Linked DNA regions of Homo sapiens: region 2 is linked to region 1. The links come from fine-mapping of genetic effects on plasma protein levels. A gene starts in region 1. The other region holds a variant in brackets. All regions are shown on one strand. Distances are from middle to middle. Region 1 holds the start of MDGA1 (MAM domain containing glycosylphosphatidylinositol anchor 1). Region 2 overlaps MDGA1 (MAM domain containing glycosylphosphatidylinositol anchor 1).

Region 1 (8,324 bases):
CCAAAGAACAAAGCCACCTGGCCAAACTGAGAGTGCTGCCTCCCCAGCCCTATTGCAGACCATGGATCCTAGGGCAGGTGGTGGACCTCAGTGGGAAGCAGGACATAGGGTTCTAGGCACCTACCTCCTACCAGCCTCAGCAGAGACACACAGCCTAGGCCGAATGCCGTCAGGTTCGCTCTCCACCGCCTGCTCGTCTTCCTCCCCTCTGTTCAGCCCCTCCCTTATCCACACAGGTCTGGGGGCAGAGGGGCAGGGGCAGGGGATTCCTCCCCAGGATATACATTTTTCTCCTATGTCTTGAATTAGACCTGCTGCCTCCCTCCCCAGTGCCAGGGCAATACTAGGCTTCCAGCCTCTTCTCTCTTCTAGGGCTGCAGGATAGGACTCTGTGACTCGCCCTAAGCAGAGACCCTTAAACAATGCCCCCACTGCCCTGCTGGAAACCAAGTCCTAGAGAGACTTCTCATGGAGAAAGAATTTCCAACCTGCCCCCAACTATAGCCCTTTCTTCATTCAACAAATACCTGCCTAGCTCCTGCTGTTGTGCCGGGGACCATGCTGGATGCTGGATGCAATGCCAGGCTGGAGTGGCCATCCCTGGTCCCTATGTGCCGCCTTCACTCTCATGCTGTTTCTTCTGCTTCGCGGGTACAGAAAGACTGCTGGGGAGGGGGGCAGAAGAACTAGTCCCAGATCTTCGACCTACTTCTTAAGCCAGTCCTGGTCCTACAGAGATCCTCCCTTCTGCTGTATCTGGCCAAAGATTCTAGCATCACAAGGAACTCAGCGACCTCCTGTCATCCTCCTCCTCCTCCTCCTAAATCTTCTGCCTTCATCCACCTCAATAAAGACTTTTTACCCAGCAATTTCCCTGAAGCCCCAACACTGCCTGAAGCCAAGCTCTCAAAGGAAAAGTGGCATGTCACCCAAGGGCCCAGGGTCGGCCCCAGCACACCCAGCCCACTTTGATTGGCTCTGAGTGAGAGCAAATGGGACCTAGGCACAGGCGGGAGGGGAGAAAACACAGAGAGAAAAGGGTATAGATAAGCCTATGGCTGAATCCTGGCCCTAGAGTACTCTGAAATGAGGGTCCACAGAGACCACTGCCCCTGACTCCAAACCCCACTCTCATTGCTGGGTTTACTAGACTAGGAACAGAGGAACCTCCCAAAGATGAGCCCCAAGCAGCCTAGAGAAGGCTGGAGAAGCTGGAGGGGATGGAGGACAGGGATGACCAGGAGTGGGTCTTGCCAAATGCACCCAATGACACAGGGAAGGAGGGTAGAGTGGAGGACAGCAGCATGCAGGAAGGGCTCTCCATCACCCTCCCCAGCCCCGGGGCTGTGGTGAGAAGGCAAAGACCTCAGCAGCACCTCTCTTAGGCACCTTGACCTGGGGAGAAAGAAGAAAGTGAAACCCCAGTCCACTGGCATCTTCATCTGCCCTGGAGAGGCCAAGGCCTCCAGTACCTGCCCCGTGGCCTCCTCGCCCCAAACCCAGCCTCTCCCAGTCCCTGCTGCATTCTTTCCTGCCTTTCCTGGCCTCTGTGAGGGGCCAGGCAGTAAGAGACACACAAACTAATTAAGAAGCAGAGTTTGGCCAGATGCCTGGGCTAGTCTTACCAGAGAATTAAGGCCAAGCCAGCTAGCTGGGCAGGGCCAGGAGCATGTCACCTCTCAGACACCCTTCAGGACACCCCTTCTTCTTGCCAGGCACAGGCAGATGGGTCAGCACCCTCCAGGGTGCTTTAGCCTCAGCACCTGAGGCTGGCAACCAGTAGTCAGTGCCTATACTACCCCACAAAGAACAGGTCAACCTCCCCTGGATCTAAAAGAGGAATCATTAGTCCCTCCACCCAACAGAAAAGGAAAGAGAGAATCCTGCCCGCCCCAGCCACACATCACTAAAAAGGGACCTGGACAAACCATCCTGCAGTAAAGAGAAAGCAAAGTAAGGGCCACTGGGCCCCTGAGAATGATTTTTTGTGCTGTGGGGTTAAGGCACTGCGGGAGGCTGAGCCCAGGTGACTGAATGGATGATGCCTGCCCCGGGCCTTCCCTGGGAAAACCCACAGGATGGAAGGGGGAAGGGGTAACCAGAGTCTCCCTTGGTAACCACAGCGAGGCGTGCGGACGCAGGAGCAAGGCTGCGTGGCAGGAGGCAGAGTTTGGACACGTATCCCGGTGGGTGCGTGCCGTGTTTGCGTTTTCTGGGGATGGTGGCTGAATGTATCTGTGTGTGCGCGCAGGAAGGAAGGTGGGGTTGGGGTTTGTAGCCAAGAACCGGGGACAGGAAGAACTGGTTCAGGGAAGGTCCGAAAAGGGATGCCGGGGTCGAAGGCGCCAGGGCCAGGGGATGCCGGCATCCTGATCAGGGTGTCAAGCCCTGAGTAGAAGAAGCGAAGCCGCAGCAACAGCGGGGAAGGCGAGCCCGCCGCCCGGCCTTGGTGCTGACAGCCGGCTCGCCCGCAAGCCGCGCGGCAACTCCGGCTCATGCATCGCTTGGCTTCCACTCCGGAGGCCGAGCCAGGACGAGGTTTCGGTGCAAGTCGCTGCACCAGTCCTAGACTGGGTCTGTCCGGGTCTCCCGAGCCGACCGGGTGCTCTCAAGGGTTCCTAATCATTCCCACCTCTAGCAGGGTGTGGGAAAGTGGGTGCCTCCTCCTGACATCCCGGCTTCCCACCAGACCCTACGACCGGCCCCTGTGTTCCGAAGCAGCTAGCTCGGTCTCCACGCGCCCTGGAGAGGGCGGGGACGCGGGCATCCACTCCAGAGTCCGAGTCGAGGTCTCCACCAAACCCCGGCAGCGCGCACTTTGCGCCTCTTGCAAAGTTTCCGCGCGAGGTTAAGCCAAGGTGGAGCGGGACGCGGGCTCTTACCGTAGACTCCTTGTCCCCGGCAGTGGAAGGGGATCAGCGCCAGAAGTAGAAGGCAGGTCACCTCCATCTTCACGGCCGGTGCTTCATCCCCGCGAGGCGGCGCAGCCCGAGAGGCGGCGGGGGGCGCATTCGCCGGGGCCCCGCGACGCCCCTATGTCCCCCCCTTTCCCTGAGAGGTGAGAGAGAGAGCGGCGACGAAGACCAGGAGACTGAAGAGGCGGAGGTGGCGGCGACCCGTGTTTCTCCTCCGGCGGGGCCGCTGCCCGCGTGGGGACGCAGGGGGCGCTGGCCCAGCCCCGGGTGCCTCGGCGCGCCCGGCACAGCAGCCAGCGCCCCGACCCGAGGAGCCCGGCCGCCGAGCCGCCCCGGGTACCCAGGGCCGTCCGCGCGGGATGCTAGGCGCCGGGGACCTCTCGGCGGCGGAGGCGGCGCTTCGATCCAACAGGCCACGGACGACTGACAAACTTGTCGTTTCCCCGCACTGGGGCCGCCCCTCAGCGGAGCGGAGTCGGGGAGGCCGGGGCTCCGCTCGAGTTAATCAATCTGCTGTTTCCAGTCCTGCGGCCGCTGCCGTGGGCTCAGCGGCCCGACTCCAGGGGGCCGGGCTGAAAGCACTCGCGGCGGCGAAGCAGCCCCGGGCCCGGCCCTCCTGATCCGGGGAGCAGCGCGGGCTGGGTTCGGCCGAGGGACGAGCGCCGCGGGTCCCCGGGTCCGTGAAGTTAGCCGAGCCGCCGATAAACCCGGGGGAAGAATAGCAGCCCGGCGCCCCGCGGGAATCTGGAGAGCAATTCCAGGCAAGAAGGGCCCCAGAAAACGGGGAAAGGAGGAAAGTTTGAGTCTTTTGAAAAATATTCGCGCTCTCGCCCAGGCCGGGGCTGCGGCGCGGGCGCCGCTCGCCGCCTCCGCTCGCCGCGCTCCTCTCCCGCCGTCTGGCCGCGGCCGTAGCCCTCCCGGGCTCCGAGCTCTCGGGAGAGCGGGGCTACGCCGCGCCCCAAGTTGGTCGTCCCCGCCCCCGCCCGGCGGCCTTGGCCTGCGGGGGCCCAGAGCGGGCGGGGCCGGGCCGGGCTCCGGGGCGCGGCGGCCGCTCGGCTCCGGGCCGCGGGAGCGCTCCGCTCGCTCAGCAACTTGGGCTTTGCTGTGCTGCTTTTTCGCCCCTCCGAGCTTTTCATTCCGCGCTCCTCCCGCCTCCCTCCCTCTCTTCCTCCTCCCTCCTCCTCGCGTCTCCTCGTTCGGTCTCTCGCTCTCCCACCCGTTGTCGCTCGCTCTCCTGTTTGATTCCCCTCCAGTTAAAAAAAGGAGCCAATTAAAGGCAGCCCAGCTCGCCTGGCCCAGCCTCTGTCCAATTTCCTCGCCTCCCCCAGGACCAATTAGAGAAAACAAAACAGGGCTGGGGGAAGCTGACTGCCTGCCTTTCTCTTTCTCTTTCTCTTTCTCTTTCTCTCTCTCTCTCTCTCTCTCTCTCTCTCTCTCTCTCTCTCTCTCTCTCTTTCTCTCTCTCTCCTCTCTCTCTCTTCTCTCTCTCCTCTCTCTCTCCCTCTCGCTCTCTCTCCCTTCCTCTCCTCTCCTCTCTTTCCCTTTCTCCTCTCCCTCTCTCTCTCTTCCTCTCTCCGCCCCCTAACATTCCCCCCCAACCCCGCCCAGCAGGAAAATGTCAGAAAGCAGAAATGGATCCATCTATCCCGAGGACAGTGGCGGAGGGACCTGGGTTTCGGCGGGGGCTCTGCAGCCGCGCGCTCGCACACTCGCTGTTCTCCAGCCTTGCACACCCAGACTAGCTGGCCGAGCCGGGTGCACCGTTGCCAGCAGCCCGCGGGGCAAACACGGCCGCTCGCTTCGGAGACCCATGCCCGCAGGGCACTGCACACTTCGTAAATGTTTTGCACTTTGGGGAGGCGGGACTGAAGCGGGGGTCCTAGGGAAAGGCCGGGCGCCTGCGGTTCCTGGGGTCCTGCAGCCGCGCGAGACGGGCCGCGGCTGTGGGTCTGCAAGGCTGTCTGCCCGGCTCGAGAGGCCCCCGCCCCTTTCCAGGCGTCTGGTGCTGGGGCCGGGCCGGAGCAGCTGGCGGAGAGGTCGCGCTGAGAGCTCCTGCCCTTGCCGCGGCCCACAGGTTGCCAACAGGTTTGCTCGCACGACCCCTCCGCCAGAGCTTCCCTAAGTCACCCCACATTTTCCTCGGCTAGCCACTCTTCCCATCTTGCCTCCCCTCGGGACCTCAGGCGCCCCCAAGCGCCCCGGGGGCACACCTCCTTCCGGCTGCCGAACCCGAGCCCCGCTCCAGCGGCGGGAGTCCGGCACTCGGGTCTCAGCCGCCTCGAAGGGGCCCTCGCGGAGCAGGAGTGCGGAGAACGCTCCTCCCAAACGCCCGCGGGGAGGGGCGTAGGCTGGCAAGCGAGGCTGGTGGCCTCCCCCGCGCCTCCGATCCCGCCCCGCGCCCAACCCGGGTCCTGCTAATCTCACCTGCTCCACCTGTCGCCGTTATTTATCTCAGCGTGTGCGCAAGAATTGTTTTAGGTCGGCCCGTGGGAGCGCAGACAATCGCAGCAGCTAACAAGCGGGGAGACTACGAACCCCCCCTCCCTTCGCCCCCTGGAACTGCTCAATATCTTGATGGTGGTTCCACGGCTCTATGCATTTGTCAAAACTCAAAGATCTCCACACTCCAAAAAGGTTAGTCTGCATATAAATTGAAACATAAATTTTTTTAAAATAATAATAATGAACCGTCCCTTCCCCAGGCCCATTTCCTGCTGGGTCTCTCCTCCCTTGACTCTCCAGGGCTTAAGCCCCACCGGAGCGCGCGCTCCTGACTGCTGGAAGAGGAGCGGGAGGTGTCGGGAAGTGCCTGGTGGCATGGGGGGGTTCCACCTTCCTTTCTCAGCCCCCTTTCTGTCCATCTCAGGAAGCCCGAGAACATCCGAAGATTCCTATTCTCTAGCCCACCTCCACTCGTTTGCGCCTCCCTTGTGCCCTCTTCCGTCTTTTCTCTCCTTTCTACCCCGTGGGTCCAAGGCTGATAGGAAGTCCAGACTCAGTGCGGTGCTCCCAGCAGATGCCAGCTGCAGACATGTTCAGTGAATTCACGAATGATGCCCATCATGGCCAGATATCACAGACCTGGGATACCCTCAGGGTAGCCATCCTTTCACTCCCCAGCCCCGGACTGTTACCTCAAAGGCAAAAAATTCATTTTCTGTCCCACAGAGATACACAGCCACCATGCCTCTTCCCGCCTCCCCCATCCAGTCAGAAAAGGAAGTGGTGCCAATTGAGGGAGTGATGAGGGATAGCTTCTTCTATTGTCATCCTCTTCCCATTATTAGAGGGTTCCTGGAAGTCTCTACCCCTTCCAGGAAGCTCTCAGGGAGTGATCACAGCGACTGTGGCTCTTCCTGGCTTTGCCCATTCTGAGCTGAATGTGTACTTCTCCATGTCGTGCGAAACTGCGCTCTGATTTTCCAATTAGCTGTTCCAACACCAAACAGCAGTCAATTGCTCCTCTTTGGCTTTGGGGTGAGTTACTGGGGACAGAGAACTGCACTGACTCAGCTGACATTCTCTTGACTTTGCCCTCTCTAAACTCACACACTAGCCTGGAGGAGAAAGAAGGTTCATGATGGCGGGGTGGGGGGAACAGAGGACCAAGTTAGCCAGGCTGGGATTGAACATTTGCTGTAGCTAATCCACTTGTGAATACTCTGCAGCTAATTGTATGCAGTGTAAATACCTTGACAGCCTGTTTGTGTGTGTCTGTAAATTCAGCTGTCTCCTCCCCCAAGTGTGCCCTGCCTGCTGCCTCAACACAGCCCAGTGTCTGACAATGGGAGGCAACCTCAGAGAAGGGAAAGAGCCCTAGACATCAGTCCTGCGTCCCAGTCCTAACCTCTCTAGGCCTCAGTTTCCCCAGATGTAAACTAGGTAAGATCCCTGTCTTCCTAGAGAGAAGTGGAGTAATAAGAATAACAGCTGACACCACATGCCAGGCACTGTATTAACTATTTAATCTTCATAACCATTATGTAAGACAGGGCTGTTATTCTCATGGAATGACATAGGAAGATGTAGTGACTCACTCAGCTGCTAAGGGGCCAAACTGAGCTTTGACCTCAGTAGCTTGGCTCGGCGACCTTGCCCTCTCCCACTGTTCTATACTGAAGAGGGGCAAGGGCCTAGGTATCAAATAATGTTTCCACAAGAACTGTTTCCTGTTCCCTTTACAGACACAGAGAACAATACTCTGGCCCCCAAATTGCACCAAGGGCAGGGGGGACATGAGAGCTAGACTGCTAGACCTGACATGGGCCATAGGGCACAGGATGAGCCTGAGGTCAGGCTATCTGGAGGCTTGGTGGTCAGCACCCAGCTGCCAAGTCTTCGGTTCCACTCAAGATCATTCTAGGTCACTTCCCACTAGAAAAAAAAATATATATATATATATGTGTGTGTGTATATATATATATATATATATATATATATATATATATATTTGCCTCAAAGAAAACCTAGCACTTGGGCCCCAGGAGGTTTCAGGAACTCGTTGCTGACCACAAGCCAGGGGCCAGGGAACCAGGGGCTCCAGGCATTGAGCAAGCAGGGCAACTGCGGTTTGTTGTGAGAGCATGTTACTAGAAAGCTCTCCCATCTCCTCCTGCCACTAGCTCGCCTCCGGCGAGTGACAGCCTGGAAGAGGAGAGAAAGAAAGAGAGAGAGAGGAAGAGTCTTTGCTAGATGGTGTTGTCGCCTTGTGAGAGAAATTGTCTCTGAAAATCATACAGTGGCAGGTATTGATTCAATCTCATTGCAAGACGCTTTCTGGTCATGTGGGGGAAGGATGACTGGGAGGGGTGAGGAACGGGAGAGTTATGACCCCGCTGAAAGACCAGTTTATTAATTCGGGCTCTAACAAATAGCCAATTAATGGCTTCAGCTGCTAATTAGCAGGCAGTTAACTCCTATTATAAACTGTGGTGGCTCAAGACTGGTGAGAATGCAATCCCACCATGATACCCGTGGAGAAAAGGGGCCCTGAAGATGCATGTCACTCACGGTTTGTAGCCCACACCACCCCCCTCCTCATCCCACACCCCCAGCAGACCTTCTGTTGGTAGAATGCAGGCTGCATGGGAGCAGGGACCTTGTCTATATGTTCACCATTCATTCATTTAACAAATATTTAATGAGTGCTTACTATGTGCCAGGCACTGCCCTAGGCACAGCAGACTCAATGTAAATAAATCAGACAAGAATCCCTGCCTTCATGGAGGCTATAGTCTAGCGAAGAGACAGACAATAGACTACACAAATGGGGAAAATACGGTATTTGGATAGTACAGGGTATGAAGGAGAACACTAAAGCTAGGGAAAGGAGTAGGAAATGTAAGAGCTGAACTGTCAGAGAAGGTACCCAGAAGGACCCCACTAACATTTCAGTCATGACCTTTAAGA
Region 2 (8,324 bases), 25 kb before region 1:
TTGAATCTCACAGGCGCAATTTGAGTGAAAGAACCCAGACACAAACATACAGTGAACTGTAATGCTAAAGACAGAAAATAAAAAGAATAGTGTGTGATTTCATTTATTCAAAACTTAAAACTGGAAGAACTAATCTTAGGGTAACAGAGGCCTAACACCGATTGCCCTTGGGTGGGGTGGGAGATTATTTGCTGGGAAGGGCACAAGAGAACTAACTTTTTCTCTCTTTCTCTCTCTCTCTCTCTTTCTTTTTTGAGACGGAGTCTAGCTCTGTCGCCCAGGCTGGAGTACAGTGGCACGATCTCAGTTCACTGCAACCTCTGCCTCCTGGGTTCAAGCAATTCTCCTGCCTCAGCCTCCCGAGTAGCTGGGATTACAGGTGTCTGCCACCACGCCCAGGTAATTTTTGTATTTTTAGTAGAGACGGGTTTTCACCGTGTTGGCCAGGCTGGTCTCGAACTCCTGACCTCGTGATCCACCCTCCTCGGCCTCCCAAAGTGCTGGGATTACAGGCATGAGCCACTACACCTGGCCAAGAGAACTTTCTTGGGGAGAAGAAGAGATCCCATCTGGTGAGATGGAAATGTTGGACATTTTGATCTGAGTGGTGTTTGCACAGTGTCTGGATACACAAAAACACATCAAGGTATCTGCTTTGGACTTCACCATATTATACCTTCTAAATTACACCTCAGTTTTTAGAAAACAGCATCCACTGTCCTGGGATGATATTAACCATTGAGATTATCCAGGATAACCCATTTACTATTATAGTTACCCAACTCCCTTTATTCTCACTGTTACTTGATGAGGCACTTCCCATTGCTGATTTGGTTCCAGGTACAGTTTTCCTTCTGAAATGAGTCCTCACTAGTAGTACATTACCTAGTGCCCCTTGGCCTTGGCTTTTCAATTTGCTCATCACCCCCCACTGAGTTTCTTTAACATGAGTCAGCCTCCCATTGGCTCAGGTCACCCTTGGAATGGCCAGAACCATGTTTCTGACCCTGAACCCCAAAGGGTCCCTGCCCCACTGAACCTCAGCCTCCATCCAGCTCCACATACCCTAGGAAGGCACTGCCTGCAGCAGCATCTCCTGATTCGGAAGGCAACCCAGGCAGGGCTGTTTCAAGATACACCATGACACGATCCTTTCACTCAATCTGTCGAACAATAAATGCTTCTGGGCCAGGCACTGTGCTGGGCACTGGAGATACTGTCATGAAAAGCAAACAAGAGATGGCTCTCAAAGAGCATTGCTGGGGAGATGGATAGCAAAAAAGGAAACAGAAATGGACAGGGTGATTTCAGAGTGTTAAATGCTATGATGACTCGAAAACAGGGAGATGTGATAAGGAACCATGGGGAGAGGAAAGGTCTGCTTTAGAGAGATGGAAACAGCACAGCTGTGGAGTCACACAATCTGGGGCCCATTCCTGGCTCTGCTACCCACTAGCTGGGTGATGCTGTGTGATGCTGAGCAAATTACTTAACCTCTCTGAGCCTCAGCCTCTTCATTTATAAAATAAGAACAATGATGCCTTCTCCCAGGGCTGCTAATGAGGGGCTAATGCAATATATGTAAAACACCTGACCAAATAGTATGTGCTGTCTCCATAAATGACAGCTCCCAAGATGATGAAATAGGAGCAAGAGATAGAGAAAGGGGACCACCTGCTATGCACCCGTACACATGCAACCCAGGGGTGGAAATGCTCAAAGCAGACATTAAACGGGTAGGGATGTTTCATGAACATGTTCAAAATTCATGCTGAGGGCTGTGCAGGGCTTCAGAGGGGATGGAAAGTGGGAAGGGCTGGAGCCCTTCCCCGAGCATCCCCCTTCTCATGGTACTAGTGCACTTGGCTGTGTGGCTTTCAGCAAGTTACTTAAGCCTTAGTTTTCTCATTTGCAAAATGGGGTTGTTGTGAGGAATAAATAAAGAAACTCATGTAAAGTGTTTAAAACAGTGCCTGGTACGCAGTATGCAATCTAAAAATGTCAGCCAGCATTATTATTCTATAAATGATCCTGCACTCCTCTCAAGAATTCACATCCCCTGCAGCCTGCAAGCCGTTTGCATGAAAGGACCCTGCCTTCTCTGTCACAGATGATGAGGGTTGGTACCTTCCTGGGGTCCACTGTATATTTCCAAGCTCCTTGCCTCAGTTCTGCGAAGCAGAAAGGGAAAGTCATATTTAGCTCCATTGGCAGAGAAGGAGACCAATGCCTGGAAGAGGAACCGTCTTGTCCAAGTCACTCACTGAGACAGCAGCACAGCCGAGACTCAAACCCAGGCCTTCCACCTGCTAACTTGGGACTCTGTTCATTGTCCCCAGGAATTTCAGAGGCATGGCTGGATTTGATCATCTTTGCTTGACACCATATTAGTGGATAGAAAACTGAACAGCATTTCAGAACCAAGTGTGCTTCCTTGCCTCTGGTCTATGACACTTTCCTATTTTACTCTCCTGATTTCTATCAACAAAACCCCATGGAAAAGGAAAACAGCCTCTGCCAACCTGTGTGCCACAGAGTGTTCACTGATAGTCCATCACAGACGATTTTCACTGTCAATTAAGGATGCTGCATGTTCTTTCTCTCGCCCTCTCTGAGAAAGACTTAGCACACAAAGTATATTATTGAAGGCTCTGAAAAGTCCTGCAGTAAACACATCTGTGTAACTTGGTTTAACTCAGTGCTTTCTAAACGTATTGGCCATAAACCCCCTTCTTCGCAGAGCACAACATCCTGAGAGACAGCAATGTTCTGTAAAATTAGTGGAGAAAAGCTTAATACAAAACTGACAGCTGAGGGGTTAACATGCCCCTCCCCAGTCCCTTAGTTAAGAACAGCCAAGTGGCCTGAGACATGTCACCCTTGGGGCAGCATCCTAATGAGCACAGCCGAGGCAGAATGCTGCTGGCCTATCAGCTTACTCTTTTCCTCCCCAAAAATTATACACCCAAAATGTATAGTTATGGGTAGGGGCTTCCAGCACCCAGTAGGCCCAGTGAGGAAGCCACAAACTCTCAGGGAGTCAGACTAAGACAAACTCCAACCTGCCAACTAAGGGTCCAAAGAGAATTCTCACTGTAATGGGGGAATTTCATCAAAGACCCCCATCCCCCATAAGAGAATCCATGCCCAGCTGCTATAGCCACAGGTAGGGGTGCTATAAAATGCATGTGGATACAACACTAGGGTGAGGGCCAAACAAGACAGACAGCAAGACAAATGGAAAACCTTGATTAAAAGCACCTTCAGGCCTATAATCCCAGCACTTTGGGAGGCCAACGTAGGAGGATCACTTGAGCTCAGGAGTTCGAGACCAGCCTGGGCAACATGGTGAAACCCCATCTCTACCAAAAATATAAAAACTTAGCCAGCATGGTGGTGCACACCTGTGTTCCCAGTTACTCGGGAGGCTGAGGTGGGAGAATGGCTTGAGCTCAGGAGGTGGAGACTGCAGTGAGCTGAGATCATATCACTGCACTCCAACCTGGGTGACAGAGTGAGACTCCATCTAAAAAAAAGAAAAAAAAAAAGTTCCTTCAGGCCGGGCACAGTGCCTCATGCTTGTAATCCCAACATTTTGGGAAGCTGAGGCAGGAGAATTGCCTGAGGCTAGGGGTTCAAGACCAGCCTGGGCATCATAGCAAGACCCCATCTCTAAAAAAAAAAAATTTTAATGAGCTGGGCATGGTGCCACATGCCTGTAATCCTAGCTAAGAGGGAGGATTGCTTGAGCTCAGGAGATCGAGGCTGCAGTGAGCCATGATTGCACACTGCACTCCAGCCTGGGCGACAGAGCAAGACCCCTATCAAAAAAACAAAAGCTCAGCCAATAATCAATGAAGAGGACTGTTGCCCTCTTCCTGCTTCTGGCTCCTTCAGGGAAAGAGTCTGCAGGCTGGGAAATGACCAAAGAACAGGGTGAGGAAGGGGCAAGGAGACAAAAGGAGAAGGAGTGGCTGCAAAATTCCCCGCCCAGAGTTGGTTCTATCTGCCCACAGATGACAGAGCAGGTGCCACCACCCCAGCCACCTCCCAGAAGCATCACTGAGTGTTCTGGATGGAGTGGTACAGAATTGGGATCTGTGTTCTGGTCCTGGCTTCCATCAGACAGTCATTCAACAAGCCCTTATCAGTATGAGGTGCTAAGCTTGGTTCTGAGGTAACAGAGAGCTGTGGCACTCAGGCTCTGCACTAGGGAAGCAGTAGCTAGAAAAGCTGAATAAGAACGATGCTTATAAAGGCCCACTGAGAGGCAGAGAGGGAGCAGGG[AGG/A]GATTGCTGTGAACTAGAGACTAGTGCTGTCTCAGGTCTCCCCCCACCCCCCATCCCCATAATATAACATTAACTGCAATAGCTACCCTTTATTGACATTTACTCTGCCAGCAATATATTCAGTGCTTTATATCTTTTATCATATTTATTGCTCCTAACAAGCCTACTATGGTTCGGACTTTTCAGATGAGGAAGCTGAGGTTCAGCGAGGTTATATAAGTTACCCAAGGACACCCCATTGGTCTGGAGTCTGTCTGACTCTCCGTCTTTCATGCTAACCGCCATGCATTTCCACTTCGCAAGTGCCTAGCCCAGTGCAGGGCTCACAGCTCAGCACGGAGCCTCCACATTCCTGGTGGGACCGATGCTGTGCAGCATCCTCAGAAACCGTCCCTCCCTCGCCGTGACACCTCTCGCCCTCCCAGATCCTGGTATGCAAGTGTTTATTGATCCTTTTATGCATGTAATGCAAATGAACACTTAATAATTTAGTGGAGTTAATAGTGCTGAAATATTAACAGGCTTTTCTCTTTTAATTAGCTGCTCAGAGAATGGCGGTCGGGGGCCTGGGAGGAGGCTTTCCTGGGCAGGCACCTGGCCTGCTCCGCCTGGGCCTCCTTCTGCCAGGGATGATGTTCCAAGCCTCTCTACAGACTGTGAGCCATCAAGCGTGGGCCTCTTGGGAAAATTAGCCCTGCCCTTCTGTGCTCACTGCATCGGGAGTTGCTCTGCCCTTACCACAGCCCCGCTCTCTGCAGAGCTGGCTGGAGCCTGTCCTCTGTTCACCACCAGCCGGGGGTGGACCAGGTGACTTCTCGGAGGTGCTCTGAGGCTGGGGGAGGCTCCAGTTCTGTGCTAGGAAAGCCGACTTGAAACAGCCCAAACCCACTCACACCATCTCCTCCAGCCTTGCCTGAACGCAGAGCATCTTGAGGGAAAGCAGCAACAGACTTTTGGCCCATCCAGTTCTGGTCATTCTCTCTCCGATCATTAGACTCATGTTCGAGTCCATTTCCTTCCCATCCTCCCTCTCGCTCCCTGTCCTCCCAGTCCCTCAAAGGGCACACACAATCACCTTTTAATTTGCCATTGATTCATTAATTGGCTCTGTAACATTTTCTGAGCACCTATTATGTGAAATCTCCTGCCCTCAGTGCTGGGACACAGAGCCAAATGAGGCATAGCCCTTCTGGGCAAAGAACCTCTGCCCTCTCCCTGCTGCAAACCATATTAAAGCCTGTTCCCCGACACAGGGCCTTTTCTGCTCATCAAAACCAAACCCATATTCAGCCAACCTTCCCTTTGGCTGCAAAAATCTCTCCCTAACCAGAGTGCATGTGTCTCTGACCTCCGGGTACAAGGGCGCTGTCACTGAATACAGCAACCAGCCACAGCTGAAAGGATCAGTGTGCAGGCCGCCACCCCGCCACCACAATTGAATGCAAAAACAAGGTCTGCTTTCATAGTCAGATGCAAGCCTGCTACAGTTTGCAGGGCCTTGTTCCATTTGCAGAGCCTGCCACTGTGGCGCCTGGAGCTTCTGGGAGAGGCTGGCACCCTTACAACTCTCCTCTGCTGCAAGTGGCGGCTGGTCCATTATGTCCCATTCCCTGGGGATGTTCAGCACCACTGCGCCCACATCCTGGTCTCATTGGAAGGCACACAGGTATTGAAAGTGGCAGGTGATGCTCATAGAATCTTCACTGTCTATCAATGGAAGTCTAATCTGCACACCCACTTATAGAACTAGAGGGTGTCTGGACAGGCCACCAGGAAAGCCCTTTAATGAGGACTTTTAGGTCTCCTGATGAAAACTATAAAGGGACTTTCTCCTGGTGGGTCCCAGGATGCCAGGATTAAAACTGCTAATGATTGCTGGGCACGGCGGCTCACACCTGTAATCCTAGCACTTTGGGAGGCTGAGGCAGGCGGATCATTAGAGATCAGGAGTTCGAAACCAGCCTGGCCAACATGGTGAAACCTCGTCTCTACTAAAAATACAAAAAATTAGCTGAGTGTGGTGGCAGGCGCCTGTAATCCCAGCTACTTGGGAGGCTGAGGCGGGAGAATCACTTGAACCTGGGAGGTGGAGGTTGCAGTGGGCCGAGATCGTGCCATTGCACTCCAGCCTGGGCGACAGAGAGAGACTACATCTCAAAAAAGCAAAAACAGCAACAACAAAAAACTGTTAATGATGAGGGGACACAGGTCATCTCCAATCAGTAAAGGCAGGACAAGTTGGGCACTGCTTGATCAGAGGCTTTAAATGCAAATCTGAGAGGGCTGCTCAACGGCATAGGGTGAGGGGTAGGGAGGAGTGCGCTACCTTTTACTCAGTGACCAAGTGACCTTGGGAAAGTTGTTTAACCTCCTTTAGCCTCAGTTTCTTCATCTGCAAAATGGGGATAGTACTACATCTCAGGCTTCAATGGAGATAACTTTTGGGTTGTTGTGAGGATTCGATGAGACAATGCACATCGGGTACATCACACAGTGACTTGTACTCAGCAGGTACTTAATAAATTTCAGTTCCATTTCCACTTAATAATATAGCCCAGGATGCTTTGGGAACCTATTCCAAAGTCTTGCAAGAAAAAAATGTGAAACCGAATGAGGTCTACTTTGAAGGATTTCCAGGAGTTTGTAATCCTGAGAGATCAGAACATTAAGGTGGGCTGAAAGTAGTAATAATCACTGGGAGGAAAAGCTCTCCCTGTGAGAATATGTAAGATGATGGAAAAGAGAAGCTTCCACCCATCAGGGCAGAGAATGACTCCTAGGATCCCAAGGTCTGAGCCTTCCTGGCCCAGTGATGTGGGACCCATGGACACAGGGTTACTCATTGTTACTCATGTAAAATTTCCTTGCCTGGATCCCAGAAAGGAAAGTTCTAGCCCCACCAAGCTCTGCTGGTCTTGGAGACCCCATCACTGTGGTTCACTTGGCACTGGTCCCTGGCAGCAGCCCAGGGTCTAGATCTGACAAGCCTGCACCTGTCAAAGCATACCTATTGAACCAAGCCCACGGAAACAGTAATTTCTGGGTGACTTGAGGCAAATCATTTACCCATCTAGTCTACAGCCTCAGCTTCCTAACTAGAGAATGGACATAACAGGGCTCCCTATTGTGAATGTGAGACCCACTGAGAATGGAATGCCCTGCGCATAGTGCATGCTGCCTAGTAGATACGCTAGAAGTACAGTTAGAAGGGGCTGACATAAAACCAGACTCATGAGTGTGTCTGCTCTGAGAAGGTCCTCCTGTTCCAGGGTGAATCCTGATAGGCCCCAGTCTCTAGGAGTCTGTGGCACAGTCGCTAGGGATAGGGCACCACCAGGGTAGGACCGGAGACACACTGCCAGATCCAGGCCTCCAAACCAGAAGGCAGAGCCTGGGCCAGGAAGTGGGGATGGCAGTGGCTTTGCTAAAGCAAGGAGCCCCCAAAGCACCACCTGATCAAAAAGCCCAGTGAGGCAAAGGGATGGAACATGGCTCTCTCCAAGGCCCACAGAGCTAAACCCCAACTCTCAAGTAGGCTCAGCTTGGGGTTCTGGCACAGGCCTGAATGTAGGGGCCAAAGGGAGAAAATGAGGCTAAGGCACTGGATTTGGGCTGCAGTGGGCATCTGGGGACCCTGAGCCCTCACATAAGCATGGATGGAGGTAGGTGGCAGGGGAGTCCTTTCCACAGAGTGCAGTAGAAAAGCAACCAAACCTGGCCCAGCATGATGGCTCATGCTTGTAATCCCAGCACTTTGGGAGGCAAGGCTGGTAGATTACTGGAGGTCAGGAGTTCAAGACCAGCCTGGCCAACATGGTGAAACCCCAACTCTACTAAAAATACAAAATTAGCTGGGGGTGGTGGCTTGTGCCTGTAATCCCAGCTACTCGGGAGGCTGAGGCAGGAGAATTGCTTGAAGCCGGGAGGCAGAGGTTGCAGTGAGCTGAGATTGTGCCATTGCACTCCAGCCTGGGCAAAAAGAGCAAAACTCCATCTCAACAGAAAAAAAAAAAAAAAAAGGAAAAGCAACCAAAC

The links. A credible set is the group of variants that fine-mapping cannot tell apart. PIP is the chance, under the fine-mapping model, that this variant and not a neighbour inherited with it causes the effect. The UK Biobank Pharma Proteomics Project read protein levels with antibody pairs (Olink). The fine-mapping took linkage between variants from a reference panel, not from the people measured, so its PIPs are less certain.
Region 2: its variant is the best candidate, but not a certain one, in a credible set for the plasma level of the MDGA1 protein (UK Biobank, PIP 0.55).

What each region holds. Positions count from the first base shown.
Region 1 is chr6:37,693,863-37,702,186 of GRCh38, forward strand. It overlaps MDGA1 (MAM domain containing glycosylphosphatidylinositol anchor 1), which reads right to left and starts at 4,021. Exons shown (of 17, transcript NM_153487.4): 1 at 2,883-4,021. The coding sequence starts at 2,949. RefSeq lists enhancers at 1,915-2,644, 2,645-3,374 and silencers at 2,917-3,076, 3,107-3,396, 3,577-3,636, 3,697-3,826, 3,887-3,956 and 3 more.
Region 2 is chr6:37,668,612-37,676,935 of GRCh38, forward strand. The region is part of intron 1 of MDGA1 (MAM domain containing glycosylphosphatidylinositol anchor 1); the gene reads right to left. Among named protein-coding and RNA genes, the nearest start is that of MDGA1, 25 kb to the right of the region's middle. The variant AGG/A (reference allele first, on the strand shown) is at 4,288.